4 linked regions of the Homo sapiens genome follow. The protein of the gene in region 4 purifies or fractionates together with the protein of the main gene of each other region. This does not show direct contact. Each region holds a gene or a part of one and is shown on either strand. Other genes may lie near its edges.

Region 1 (3,500 bases), on a different chromosome or scaffold from region 4:
TGGTTCTAGGGACCCCTGCGGATGCCAAAATCTACAGATATTCAAGTCCCTTTTATAAAATGGTTTAGTATTTGCATGTAATCCATGCACATCCTCCCATATACTTGAAATCATCGCTAGATTACTTGTAATCCCTAATACAATAAAACTGCTATACAAATAATTGTTATACTGTATTATTTTAAAATGTCTTATTCTTTATTATAGTATTTTGTTTTTCTACCATATATTTTCAATTCGCAGTTGGCTGAATCCACTAGTGTGGAACCCACAGATATGGAAGGATGACTGTATGTTTATATTTATTTTTGAGATAGGGTCTTGCTCTGTCATGCTGGCTGGGGTGCAGTGGCTCAAACATGGCTCACTGCAGCTTTGACCTTCCCGGGCTCAAGTGATCTTCCCACCTCAGGCTCCCAAGTAGCTCGGACTACAGGCATGTGCCACCATGCCGGGTTAATTTTTGGTTTTGTTTTACGTAGAGACGGGGTTTCACCATGTTGACCAGGCTGGTCTCAAACTCCTGAGGCTAAAGCAGTCTGCCTGCCTCTGCCTTCCAAAATACTGGGATTACATGTGTGAGGCACTGTGCCTGACCTGTAAATTTAAAAAGCTACTTTTTGGGCTGGGCGTGGTCGCTTACGCCTATAATTCCAGCACTTTGGGAGGCCGAAGTGGGTGGATCACCTAATGTCAGGAGTTTGAGACTAGCCTGGCCAAAATGGAGAAACCCCACCTCTAGTAAAAACACACAAAAAATTAGCTGGGCGCGGTGGTGGGTGTCTGTAGTCCCAGCTACTCGGGAGGCTGAGGCAGGAGAACTGCTTGAATCCGGGAGGCGGAGGCTGCAGTGAGCCGAGAACATGCCATTGCATTCTAGCCTAGGAGACAGAAAAACTCCGTCTCAAAAAATAAAATAAAATAAAATAAAATAATAAAATAAAAAGCTACTCTGTGTGTAATAAGGACAGAGGGTGATTATACATGCAAATTTGCTTATATTTGCAAAAATATGGAACAGGTGAACTAGGAGCCTAAGAAATGTTATCCATGGTCAGGGAGGGGACAGGGAGAGTACAGGAATCATGACCAGACTTCTTCTTTTTTTTTATTTTTATGAGACAGTCTCACTTTGTCACCCAGGTTGGAGTGCAGTGTCGTGATCTCAGCTCACTGCAACCTCCACCTACCTAGTAGCTAGGATTATAGGCGTACGCCACCACACCAGATAATTTTTATATTTTTTCTAGAGATGGGGTTTCCCCACGTTGGCCAGGCTGGTTTCGAACTCCTGGCCTCAAGGGATCCACCTACCTCGGTCTCCTAAAGTGCTGGGATTCCAGGTGTGAGCCACCACACCCAGCCTGCAAAGAAATACTAACCTTTTCTCAGCACTCCAGTTGCAATTGTGCTGTGAGAATGCTCATTCTGAAGCAATTATATGAGTGAGTGTACAGTAGAATAACATCAGTGAATAACGGGTAGAATAAGCAACTAAGAAACGAGGAGCGGAACCAAGCATACCAGCGACGAGATCTAAATATGAAATTCAAAACAGCAAAGATCTGGACTGTTCAACTGAAAGTGACGCTAATTGCTAGGAACTCTTTGCTGCTGCCCCAAGTGTGTACTTCCTAATTTTTCACAGTAAAGGCCTAACAACAATGACCACCCAGCAGCAAAAAGCACCCATGGCACCTGGATTGTGTCTCTAAATACCGCTCCCCACTAACGGCACCTGGAGTCCTGAAGGAGGGGCTGACTGCAGCTCTGGGATGGGAAGTACACAAGGTGAAGGCGGGCATCCCGCTGGGAGAAACGCTGACCCACAGTGCTAGAAGGGCAAGGAGCCAATCAGAAGGGCTCCAATGGCTAAGACAGGACAATTTTTTTTTCTTCTTTTTTTTTAAGATGGAGTCTCGCTCTGTCGCCCAGGCTGGAGTGCAGTGGTACGATCTCAGCTCACCGCAACCTCCGCCTTCCAGGTTCAAGCAATTCTCCTGCCTCAGCCTCCTGAGTAGCTGGGATTACAGGCGTGCACCACCATGCCTGGCAAATTTTTGTATTTTCTGTAGAGATGGGGTTTCACCACGTTGGCCAGGCTGGTCTTGAACTCCTGACCTCAAGTGATCTGCCCACCTCGGCCTCCCAAAGTGCTGGGATTACAGGCTGGAGCCACTGCGCCTGGCCAAGACAGGACAATTTGACTAGGAAAACGAATAATTCATGCAACTGACAAACACATAAAAGTTCACAATGATGCTGGAGAAAAAAAGAGAACCCCTTCCCTACCCCCAAACAAACCCTCAACTCTGGTCAACATTTGGAGTAAGCTCCAACTCTCTATCCTGAAAATTAGTCATCAAAAGGAACAGTTAAGCATTAAACTGCCTTTCTCGTACCATACTTCAAGGTAACAAACTAGTCCTGGAAGATGGAAAGTTCTTCACAGAAGAATTACAGCTCATCAATGTGAAACGAAAGTTAGAAAAGTGAGCCATGGTTTACTGATTGGGAAAATAGAGGTAATATCCACTACTTCAGCAGGTGGAGCCAAGGATTAAAGATAAGAAATGTCACAAATCCAGCTAGACCACATTAAGACCTCAATAAATATTTACTTTTCCTTTCTAACTCGAGTCTGGAAGAATCGCACTGGCCTCCTCCTCACCGCAGGCACTTGCATTCATTTATAACACATTCTCTGAAGGCAGACCCTGCAGGTGGCAAAAAGATTCGACGTGGAGTAAATGGAAACAGAGACCAGGGAGGAACTGAGCTGCACAGTTTTCTTTCTTTCTTTTTTTTTTTTGAGACGGAGCTTCACACTTGTTGCCCAGGCTGGAGTGCAGTGGTGCGATCTCGGCTCACTGCAAACTCTGCCTCCTGGGTTCAAGCGATTCTCCCACCTCAGCCTCCCAAGTGGCTGGGATTACAGGCGTGCACCACCACGCCTGGCTAATTTTGTATTTTTAGTAGAGACAGGATTTCACCATATTGGTCAGGCTGGTCTCGAACTCCTGACCTCAAATGATTCACACACCTTGGCCTCCCAAAGTGCTGGGATTATAGGCGTAAGCCACCACACCCAGGCAGCGCATGTTTTTTTCTTTTTTTTTTGACACGGAGTCTCCCTCTGTCACCCAGGCTGGAGTGCAGTGGCACCATCTCGGCTCACTGCAACCGCCACATCCTGGGTTCAAGCAATTCTTCTGCCTCAGCCTCCCAAGTAGCTGGGACTACAGGTGCGAGCCACCATGCCTGGCTAATTTTTGTATTTTTGGGAGAAACAGGGTGTCACCATATTGGCCAGGCTGGTCTCAAACTCCTGACCTCGTGATCCGCCCGCCTTGGCCTCCCAGAGTGCTGGGATTACAGGCGTGAGCCACTGCGCCCGGCTTTTTTTTTTTTTTTTTTTTTTTTTGGCCAGTGCATAGTTTTCAAAGTTCCAGGGCTGGCAAGGCACAGTGGCTCACATCTGTAATCCCAGCACTTTGGGA
Region 2 (3,500 bases), on a different chromosome or scaffold from region 4:
AACAACCTACTGTAATTTTTTTCATCATTCATCTTATTAATCAGTGTCATCAGATTGGGAGATCTTTAATAAACTCTAGAAAGAACCATCTTTCCTTCTTTTCCTACTTCTCATTAATGTTTCTAAATTTGCCTTTTTACAGGACTTTGCCTCCCGGGCCAAACTGGCAGTTCAAAAACTAGTACAGAAAGTTGGATTTTTTGGAATTTTGGCCTGTGCTTCAGTAAGTGAATTGTATTAAAACAGAACTTTTACTAAGTGGTAGTGTTATATTTTGATCCATATATACTCCTGAATTAACAAAAGTGCTATCACTTTTATTGGGTATGTAATTTTGTGAATCATTCACCTTTTTTTTTTTTTAAGACGGAGTCTCCCTCTTGTCACCCAGGCTGGAGTGCAGTGGCATGATCTCGGCTCACTGCAACCTCCATCTCCTGGGCTCAAGCAATTCTCCTGTCTCAGCCTCCCTAGTAGCTGGGACTACAGGCATGCACCCCCACGCCTGGCTAATTTTTATATTTTTAGTAGAGGCAGGATCTCATGTTGCCCAGGCTAGTCTCAAACTCCTGGGCCCAAGTGATCCACCTGCCTCGGCCTCCCAAAGTGCTGGGATTACAGGCATGAGCCACTACACCTGGCCCATTCAACTTTTTTTTTTTTTTTTTTTTTTTTTTTTGAGACAAGAGTTTCACTTTTGTGGCCCAGGCTGGAGTGCAATGGCACAATCTCGGCTCACTGCAACCTCCACCTCCCGGGTTCAAACGATTCTCCTGCCTCAGCCTCCCAAAGTAGCTGGGATTTCAGGCGACTGCCACCACACCCAGCTAATTTTTTTTTTTTTTTTTTTTTTTTTTTTTTTTTTTTTTTTGAGACGGAGTCTCGCTCTGTCGCCCAGGCGGTAGTGCAGTGGCGGGATCTCGGCTCACTGCAAGCTCCGCCTCCCGGGTTCACGCCATTCTCCTGCCTCAGCCTCCCAAGTAGCTGGGACTACAGGCGCCCGCCACTACGCCCGGCTAATTTTTTGTATTTTTAGTAGAGACGGGGTTTCACCGTTTTAGCCGGGATGGTCTCGATCTCCTGACCTCGTGATCCGCCCGCCTCGGCCTCCCAAAGTACTGGGATTACAGGTGTGAGCTACTGCACCCAGCCCAATTCAACTTATTAAATGAGCTGTTTTCTGTTGAATAGGTTCACATCTTGTTTATTGGCTTTTAAGTATTTCATCATGTAGTGATGACTTCAGACCTAAATGGCTTAAATCAGTAAGAATAAAAGAGACAAAATCCATTCTTCCAATGAAGAATATACTACATTTAACCAAATTAAACTACATTTAACCAAATAAGGATGACTTCATTCTTTCCTCAAATTTATAGATAAGAAGTCTTTTTCCAAAGTTTCAAGTATTAGTTACAAGGAAGAATTTATATAAAACCTGTTTAAAGCGATGTTAGCTCAGGGCTACTCTGATTTACGTATCTTAAATCCTTTTTTTGTGTTTGTTTTTCTTTTTTTGAGACAGAGTCTCCCTCTGTCACCCAGGCTGGAGTGCAGTGGCGAGATCTTGGCTCACGGCAACCTCCACCTCCCAGGTTCAAGCGATTCTCCTGCCTCAGGCTACCCAGTAGCTGGGATTACAATCATGCACCACTACACCCAGCTAATTTTTGTATTTTTAGTAGAGACAAGGTTTCACCATGTTGGCCAGGCTGGTCTCGAACTCCTGACCTCAAGTGATCTACCCACCTCGGCCTCCCAAAGTGCTGGGATTATAGGCATAAGACACTGCGCCCAGCCTACATATCTTAAATACTTTAAATTCATTTTCATTTCAACATGAGTTGGAACCTTATGATAAAGGAAAAAAAAGTTATAACTCATAGAATTATGAGAGTCACATGAGCAAATATAACAAATAGCAGGTGTGATGCTGTGTAAATGATATTATTATATGGTTGTAAGAGATGAAATAATCCTAAAGCATTTGAATTTGGATGAGAAAAACAAAAATGAGTCATTGAATCCAAGTGTTACTAACAAAGGAATACTTGAATTCTAATTTAGTCATGTCTTTTTTAAAGATCATATGTGACAAGTATTTTTTAAATAACTAGGCTTTTCTTTCAAAGTTCAAAAATGAAATTATATAAATTAATTGGCTTATTAATGGTTCAGCCAACAGCCACAAGGTCAGAGTACTTTCATAGGAGAAGAAGGGATGAAGTGCTCAAAAACAGCTTGTGGCTTCTTTGCATTTTTACATGAAATGTCTTTTAGCATTCTTAAAATGTGGGAATGTTTGGGAAAGGTATTTGTTGTGAATTACTTCTTTGTCTGGGACTGAGTATTCAAAACATCTGAATCTGTGTGATCTCATATTTCCACACTTGATCTTCTTTATAAATTGTGTCACATAGCCCTCAGACTTGGTCTCTCGTAAAATAAAATACAAATTATTAATATTTTATGTTGAGAATAACAGCACATCCACCCATAAATGTATTTGAGAATTTATTAAAATATTTGCTAATGATATGAGTGCTTTCCAGATAATATTCACATTTCAAGCTAAAGATTTTAGAACCCTAACTGCTGAAACAATCTTAAGGCTCTTTCTTCACTCATACCTCACCTTAGAAAACAGCCACCAAATATCCAGGAATCAACTGAACGGGATTAAATTCCTGCAGGTCCACTTACTTTATCCAGTTCTCATGTGATGGGCACACACACAAACACACACACAGTGCCTTAGCCATGAGTAATATAAGCAAAAGGACACCTTGGTTTGCTGTGAGCAGATTGAACACCTAAGGTGAATATGAGACCCAGCTTCTAGACACATTAGGATGTTTGCCTAACCTCCTTTTGAACAATCCAGTAGTGATCAAGGAACCCATATATTGCTTTGCAGTGTAAGCAGGCTGAAAGCAGAATACCACATATCAATGGGTGATAAAATTAAATTGTTCTTTGGATTATAATATGGAAGTCCTTCTTTTTCTCTCTATAGATTCCAAATCCTTTATTTGATCTGGCTGGAATAACGTGTGGACACTTTCTGGTACCTTTTTGGACCTTCTTTGGTGCAACCCTAATTGGAAAAGCAATAATAAAAATGCATATCCAGGTAATTATACCCCCTGATTCACTGCCTAATGATGATGAACCCATTACAAGACAATGAAACATGCTCATTCCTAAGTGAATTATTTAGTTATTCTTTCTGCTTTTTTGGTTGGTAGCTTACTTAGGTAATACCACATAGAATGTCATTTGGAATTAGTGATCTCCTTGTTTTCTTTCTTTTCTTCTTTCTTCCTCCCTCCTTCCCTTTCTTCCTTCTTTCCTTCCTTTCTCTCTTTCTTTCTTTATTTTTTGTCCTGTTTAACTATTTATCCAGGACTTTCACCAAACAAAAATAGTGTTTGTGTGCAGAAAGATGCACATCATTTTTATATACACAGCCCAAAAAATGTAGTTTTTTGTTTGTTTTG
Region 3 (4,135 bases), on a different chromosome or scaffold from region 4:
TGCCTTAAAGCTTATATTCTAAAGGTGGAGGCAGACAATAAACAAGTAAACAAATAGTTCACAGAATTAATTGCTTTTAATGACTATGAAGGAAATAAAATGGGAGCCAGAAGTAGGCAAAGGATGTGTACATAAAACAGTTCAATTGAATGGGTTTCCCATAATTTACTTAACCATTTTTATTTAGTGTTGGATTTTTATATTGCTTTTAGTTTTTCACTGTTATACTAATACAGAGGAATTATTTATGTTTATTTTCATGGAATAATTTCCTACAAATGTAATTACTGAATAGAAACAATCAGGATTTTTTTTTTTTTTTTTTGGGACGGAGTCTTGCTTTGTGGTCTATGCTGGAGTGCAGCGGTGCAATTTCTCACCGCAACCTCAGCCTCCGGGGTTCAAGCGATTCTCCTGACTCACACTCTCGAGTAGCTGGGATTACAAGCCATCATGTCCAGCTCATTTTTGTATTTTTAGCAGAGACGGGGTCTCATCTCACCATTTTGGCCAGTCTGGCCTCACACTCCTGGTCTCAAATGATCCGCCCGCCTTGGCCTCCCAAAGTGTTGGGATTACAGGCTTGAGCCACCGCGACCGGCCTCTAAGTTGCTTTCAAGAGGTAACCACGGTGAGTAAGCTGAATGTGCTCTGAGGGGTAGAAGCAGAAAAAGTTACCTGTGGAAAAGGCATGTTTCCGCTTAGCTTAGGGATAAGCTAAATGTAGAGCTGACTTGGGTTTAGTAGTAAGGGGCAGCAGCTAATGCAAAACCGTTAGCTTTGGGAACAGGACAACCTGGATTCTAAGCCCATTTTTGCCATCCTGTGATCTTCACAGGTTGTACGTAGCCCTCTCTGAGCCTTAGTTTCCTGAAATTCAGGTAGGTTTTGCTCAACCTTTGTATTTCCCACCATCTTTTAGATCAAGCACTCTCTGGCGCCTCCAAATTGAAGACAGCAGCTGCGGAATTGATGTAATGGGCTGAATCAGCCTCAGCCGCGAAATGCCGACTAATCACAGGCACCTCCGGCGGCCTGGACAAAAGGTTTGAAGTCCCTGGGACCGCACTTCCGGGTAATTAAGGCTACGCTTTAGACGCCAGGGCCAGCGAGTCGCAGCCGGGTGACTCGAGTGCCGCGACTGCGCATGCTCTCGCCCCAGCGCCCGGCGGCCACCTCTTTCCCGCGGGCGGGCCGGGGCGGGGCACTGAAGGGGGCGGTCCAGGACCCTGACTTGTCTCGCGGTTACTGGGCCGGCGCGAGCACGCGAGGCTCGGGGGCGGCACGGGGCGGGGTTTAGCCTGTGGTGGGCGCTGCGGGTGTTTGCAGGAGGTTGCAGTACTCGCTGGGCTGAGGTCGTCTCGGGTGAGGAGGTCGCGCCGGAAGTGGCTCTAGCCGTGGCGCTTCGGCGTAGTAAGGAGCCTGCAACAGAGTTTTGTTGTTTAGGGGGCGCGGCACCGCACCGCTCCCTTCACCTTGCAGCAGCCATGGCGAAAGGCAGAGTCGCCGAACGATCGCAGTTGGGCGCTCACCACACGACCCCCGTGGGGGACGGGGCAGCGGGGACGCGGGGTCTCGCGGCGCCTGGCAGCAGAGACCACCAGAAGGGTGAGTGGGCCCGGGGAGCAGAGCTGGGGGTGGCCCGAGGCTTCTGTGTGTCGGGTGGGGAAAAGGACCCCCGCTATTCTCGGAGAGTCGCGGGGAAAGAGGGGGGCCTGCTGGCGCCGCGGCGGGAGCAGAGACCGTGGGGGAGTTGGGCTTGGGCGCTCGCGCAGCACAAGGCCGGACGCCGAGTAGGTGCGTTGTAAATGCTGTTTGAGTAGAATTCATTTAAAAGAAGGGATGACACTGGCTTGTTGACGCTCAGGTAGATTGTAAGGTTGATGATAACGACGCTAGGCAGAGCTGGAAGGAGCTGTACTGTGGCATTCGCTGCGTTGTTTTTACAGATGAAGAAACTGAGGCCCAGTGTGGGTATATGACTTATAAAGTCATAAAGCCAGATCAGTGAAGTAGTAGTTAGGAGCGAGGACTTAATACTTCCAGGTGGCAGTACACCTGGGCTTGAGTCCCTGCCCTACTGTTTACTTGGAACCTTGGACTTGGTAACTTTCAAAAAAAGCTCAGTGTCTGAACTGTGAAATGGGGATAATAATAATATCTACTTAATAGGTGGTGCGTGGGTTAAACGAAATAATTCACGTAAAAGATTTAGAGCAATGCTTGGATATGAAGTGGGGGCTAAATAAATATTAGCAATTACTTAGTTACAGCTAAGGTCACTCATTCTAAAGTTTATTTCCCCACTACATCATCCTGACATTTCTCACGGCTTTATTTTTGGTTTTTGTTTTCTCTTTATTCCTACTGCCTCTATAATTGCAGAATCTCACGGCTTTAAATATTGTTTTAAGGAAAAAACTGTACGTAGAAACTAAATACTTTGATTCCGTGTTGGCCTGGAATCGTTCTTTAAATGATTTTAAAGCTCATAAACTTAAAGTGATCCTAACAAGTTTGTCTGTAGCTCACATAGGTGTGTTCCACCACCAGTGATGGCTAGGAGAACTTCTAAGAGTATGTAGTAGAAAATGTTAATGTATTTTCAAATAATTTAAAATGTCTCCAACAGTCTAATTTGGCTCTGTCAGCCTTATGTTTTTGGGTATTTTTCCAGCTTATATACACTGGATCCAGGTGACTTCATATAATTTCAAAAACTGAGAAATGAATCGTTGTTAATGTATAAATCAGCTCTGAATAAAAGAAAGATTGTTTTGAAGACTCTACTACTGAGGGTGACAATATTCCAAGGTCTGGGTTTCCTGAAAAAGTGTTCCAGATAGGGCATCCCTAAAAATTGACATCTCATTTGAGGTAGCAGCCAGTTGTATTCATGATTTTTACCTAAAGCTATTCAAAAAATAAAACCTTGAAACTTCCAAAGTGCTCTTACTTTTTAATCTTATTTTATCATTACAACAAAACATTCAACACAATTATTCTTTTTTTTTTTTTTTTTTTTGAGACGGAGTCTCGGTCTGTCACCCAGGCTGGAGTGCAGTGGCGCAATCTTGGCTCACTGCAAGCTCCGCCTCCTGGGTTCACGCCATTCTCCTGCCTCAGCCTCCCGAGTAGCTGGGACTACAGGCGCCCACCACCACGCCGGGCTAATTTTTGTATTTTTAGTAGAGATGGGGTTTCACCTTGTTAGCCAGGATGGTCTCGATCTCCTGACCTGTTGATCCGCCCGCCTCGGCCTCCCAAAGTGCTGGGATTACAGGCGTGAGCCACCACGCCTGGCCTACAATTATTCTTATGATGCTGTCCCATGACATCTATAGATCACAAATCTATAGGAAGACAGGGAAGAGATGTGAAGGCGTGCCTTCACTTCATGATGAAGTAAGGCCTGTTTTTAGTGACTTGAGACAAGGCCTCGCTGTGTCACCTATGCTGGAGTGCAGTGGCATGATCATAGCTTGCTGCAGCCTCAGCTACCTGGGCTCATGCGATCTTCCCACCTCAGCCCCCTCAAATAGCTGACTACAGGTGTGTGCCACCATGCTCAGCTAATTATTTGTTTTTTGTAGAGAAGGGGCCAGGGTGTCTTGAAGTCCTGGGCTCAAGCGTCTTCCTGCCTTGGCCTCCCCAAATGCTGGAATTACAGGCATGAGCCATTGTGCTTTGCCAGATAAGTAAGGTTTGGATAAGTAAAGAGAAGGGAAGGGTATTCCAGGCTAGGAGAAAGAGAGTAGTAGGGTTGAAGGTTAGTGTGAAACTTTTATGTGTGTGGGTAGGGAGATTAATTTGTCAGGAGCAGAGGGTTTCTGTTGGGTGGTAGTAGGCGATGAGGTTGGCCTGTTCAGGATGTGTCAGAATGTTCCTGTAAATTCCATGATACTTGGAAATGAATTTGTATTCTATTAAGTGACACATATATAACTTTGACAAATAAGTAGTTATCATCATATGTATGTTTGAACTGTTTTACATGCTATCTGCAATGTTTGGTACATTTAGTGGATTCCTTGCCATTACTCTGGCCTCTAGTCTCAGAGCTAAGCCTAGTAGACTGTGGACCACTTTGACTACTTGAGTAAGGCAGAGGTAACACGGAAAGTCTAATTTTTGC
Region 4 (3,500 bases):
GCTCCGGAAGCCTGGCTTCTGTGCATGTCTATGTCAGCCCAGGCCCTGCTACACTCTCCTCCCTGTCCCCGGCACCAACAGAAGCTTCTGCACTGGCCTTTTAGCTTCTCTTCTCTCCTCACCCTACCCCTGATTTATCCAACAGATTAGTCAGATACTCTACCTAAAATAGCATGTTTGGCCAGGTGCAGTGGTTCACTCCTATAATCCCAGCACTTTAGGAGGCCAAGGCCGGTGGATCATTTGAGGCTAGGAGTTCCAGACCAGCCTGGCCAACGCAGTGAAACCCGTCTCTCCAAAGAAATACAAAAAAAATTAGCCAAGTGTGGTGGCAGGCACCTGTAGTCCCAGCTACTCGGGAGGCTGAGACATGAGAATCGCTTGAACTGGGGAGGCGGAGGTTGCAGTAAGTGGAAATCACGCCACTGCACTACAGCCTGGGCAACAGAGACTTTGTCTGAGAAAAAAAAAAGAAAAAAAAAGAAAAGAAAAAGAAAAGAAAAAAAGGAAAAAAATTAGCATGTTTATCAAGGCACTTGAGTGCTCTATGGATATTATTTTCCACCTTGCTGGGACCAGGTAGCCGCCCCCCACCCTCGGTCATGACTGGGCCCCATGATGTGCGGCTTACTCTCCCACTATGCCCTGAAATGCTCTCTGCTCCACTTGGGCTGGTGATCTCACCTTCTCCACCTGCAAGGGGTGATTCCCACCTTAGCACCTCTGCAGTGTTCCCCTCTTGGTCTGGAATGGCCTCTTCTCTGCCTGTTCAACTCCTCTACCTTGGTGGTGCAGAAGGAGCCTGGCTTCCTCCATGTGGCTACCCTGAGGACTCTTGCTTTTGGTGCCAGTGCCTGTGGCATGAGGCTTCAGCAGCACACAGCCAGAACTAGGGCCTACACTGTCCTGCCCTGAGGCTTGGGAACTTCCTACAGGGCATGCTGGACCCCATCTTCTCACAGCTACTGCTATTTTTCCCCACACTTGGGGCAACCCAGCACAGGGCTGAGAGCAAGTCTGTTGCTGTCATGGGATTCTGTTTTGTTTTGGCTCTTTTGAGTGTGGAGAAAACATTCTGAAATAATTTATAATCTATGCTTCCTGTCTCTGGGAGACAAAATAGGGATTCATGGGTTGTTGCTGCCCTCTAGTGAAGGCCAGACAGAAATCATCCTGCCAGTGGGCACATGGGGCACAAGGTCACACTCACCACCAGAGTGCCACGCATAGCACCCCCGGCATCGTCAGCGCCACCAGCAGCATCCGCCAGTCTCGGATGAAGTAAGCAAACAGTGGCAGCACCATGTAGCCAAATGCATAAAATATGCACACTCCTAACGTAGAGAATATTATACGAACTGACTTGCCAAGAATTTCTGTCCCTGTTCAAAACAAGGGAGGTCGAGTTAGCAGTTTAATTTGGGTTCCTTCCTTATTAATTTTTTATGGTATCTTTGTGAATACACAGACAAGAAAACAGCGAGAACTCTCTCTAAGTTCATGGCGCTAGGGAGCGGATGGCGTTCTGAACCCCTCCTGTCTGACTGTCTCCTGGGGGTACATCCCTGTGGCCTCTCAGGCCCCCAAGCAACAGTTCTCTCTTGAAAATTTCGCCATGTTCTGAAGCCATGTGCTAAAGATGCCATGGTAGGCCCCCTTTAATCCTCACATGAGGAAGAATTTATTAAAAGTGAAGTCATTACTAAGTCAGCACATGCTGACTTAAGCCTCAAGGAAAGAATATTAAATATAAAAAGAAAAAACAACCCTTTCAACAATACAACCCAAGGAACTCAAAGGCCTTATCAGCTAGAGTCAGGTTCCTCCAAACACAGGCCGGCCTGGCAGCTTCTCAGTGACAACAGGCTGGCACATTTGAGACAAAGCCCTGCAGTGTGCACTCTGAATTAAAACCCTGAAGGTGACGAAAGCCCCTTCCTATCAATTTATTCTTGTCCGTAGATATCACCAGCCACAGTGCTCTGCAGACAAGGGGTTCTCTACCTTAGCAAGCTTGCCAGTCACAGCCCCTCCTCCTCCAACCATGCCGCCCTCTTTCTGGGGCTGGCTCAGCCCTGTGCAGTGGCAGGCCCTTTTTGTAAATGGAGGATCTCTGGTGAGTCCTAGTAAATTGACCATCAAGTACTAAGACCAAGGAGCCACAGCCCAGAGGCCAGAAAAGAACTGGAAATCAGAAGTCAGGCCATTGTGCTGCTGGGGACCCCAGGCTGGTCTCATGTCTGGCTCAGTTTCCCTGCCTGTAAGTAAGGTTCACCAGGAAGCTCTGGCTAGTTTTGTTAGAAACCCTGTCCCCCTTGAGGGACATCACAGTTGTCTCCAGAAAGGTAGGTGATGGGATGATGGTGAAATACAGGATCAAGTACTCAACTCCAACCTGATGGCCATACCCAGGACAAATGCTGCCACATAGTTGGAGATCTGGCCCATGCCTACAAGGACAAACAGCACGACAAACATCTCAAAATTCTTCGAGAAGATCTGCAGGAAGCTGAAGCCTGTCTGCATGCCCATGGTCACGAACAGCACATTCTTCCGGCCAAACCTGGGAAGAAAAGGAGAGTGACAGATAACCAGCTGGAAAAGGGCAGCAGGAATGGGCTCCACCAAGTGGGGCTTTCTCAAGATCCATCCAGTAAGTGGGTGTGAACAGTGTTGCCAGAATACTGGCTGCCAGGGACAGTCTCGGTCTCACAGTGCCCATGCTATTTCTCCCCCTCCCCACTCCCCATGACAAATGTACAGCCTGGGTACCAGGGTTGCCTAAAAAGCAATGCTACAATTATGATAATGATTGCAAGAGACTGAAATACATCAATTATTTAATCCATACATTCATAATGATATTTTTTTTAAAAAAGAATCTGCCAAATTTGGAGAATAACAGAGAAACAATTCATTATAAATGAAAACTGGCAAATAAAGAGAAAGAAACATTTGTCCTGATTTTCCTTTGTAAACTATGTGAACAGCAACCAATAATAGATAAGAGGTAGTATCATGTACAAAAGTATTCTAACTTTTAAATGAAAAGGTAATAAAATTAGAATAATACCATTTATAGCCCCCAATGGATTAATAGATCTATGCATTATATACTAATTACTGTTAACATCATAAAGAGACAGTCAGGAATTGCATGCTTCCTATGGTCTGGCCAAAAGGACTGAACCTGAATCAGAACCTGAATCTCAAGTCTCTGGATCCAACTGCCAATTTTGAGGAAATGCAGAGCATAGAGGAATGTGCTGAACTGCATCATCAGTGTGCAATCAACAAATCCAGACTGGGAAATTCTATAGGTGGAATAGCTCAGGTTCTTCATAGATAATCAGTAAGGCATAGAAGGCGATAGAAGGAGAATCCATAGATTAAGTAGACTAAAAGACATCAAATATATTAAGTGGGCAACACTAAATTTGTGTCAAGGATGCATATTTCGATAATAAAACTAAAAAAACTCACAAGGAAGTGATTATTAC

Evidence for each region.
Region 1: the proteins of SLC22A5 (region 4) and SLC35E1 purify together in Homo sapiens (affinity purification with mass spectrometry; one large-scale study listed by BioGRID and IntAct). This does not show direct contact.
Region 2: the proteins of SLC22A5 (region 4) and VMP1 purify together in Homo sapiens (affinity purification with mass spectrometry; one large-scale study listed by BioGRID and IntAct). This does not show direct contact.
Region 3: the proteins of SLC22A5 (region 4) and TMEM41B purify together in Homo sapiens (affinity purification with mass spectrometry; one large-scale study listed by BioGRID and IntAct). This does not show direct contact.

What each region holds. Positions count from the first base shown.
Region 1 is NC_000019.10:16,562,416-16,565,915, forward strand, and holds part of SLC35E1 (solute carrier family 35 member E1), read right to left. Parts: intron 1-3,500. UniProt on the Homo sapiens protein: Putative transporter.
Region 2 is NC_000017.11:59,808,654-59,812,153, forward strand, and holds part of VMP1 (vacuole membrane protein 1), read left to right. Parts: intron 1-142; coding exon 143-223; intron 224-3,016; coding exon 3,017-3,133; intron 3,134-3,500. UniProt on the Homo sapiens protein: Phospholipid scramblase involved in lipid homeostasis and membrane dynamics processes. Has phospholipid scramblase activity toward cholesterol and phosphatidylserine, as well as phosphatidylethanolamine and phosphatidylcholine.
Region 3 is NC_000011.10:9,311,794-9,315,928, reverse strand, and holds the start of TMEM41B (transmembrane protein 41B), read left to right. Parts: upstream 1-1,335; 5' UTR 1,336-1,487; coding exon 1,488-1,608; intron 1,609-4,135. UniProt on the Homo sapiens protein: Phospholipid scramblase involved in lipid homeostasis and membrane dynamics processes. Has phospholipid scramblase activity toward cholesterol and phosphatidylserine, as well as phosphatidylethanolamine and phosphatidylcholine.
Region 4 is NC_000005.10:132,383,210-132,386,709, reverse strand, and holds part of SLC22A5 (organic cation/carnitine transporter 2), read right to left. Parts: exon of another isoform or gene 2,564-3,500; coding exon 2,409-2,563; coding exon of another isoform or gene 2,390-2,408; intron 1,383-2,389; coding exon 1,211-1,382; intron 1-1,210. UniProt on the Homo sapiens protein: Sodium-ion dependent, high affinity carnitine transporter. Involved in the active cellular uptake of carnitine. Transports one sodium ion with one molecule of carnitine.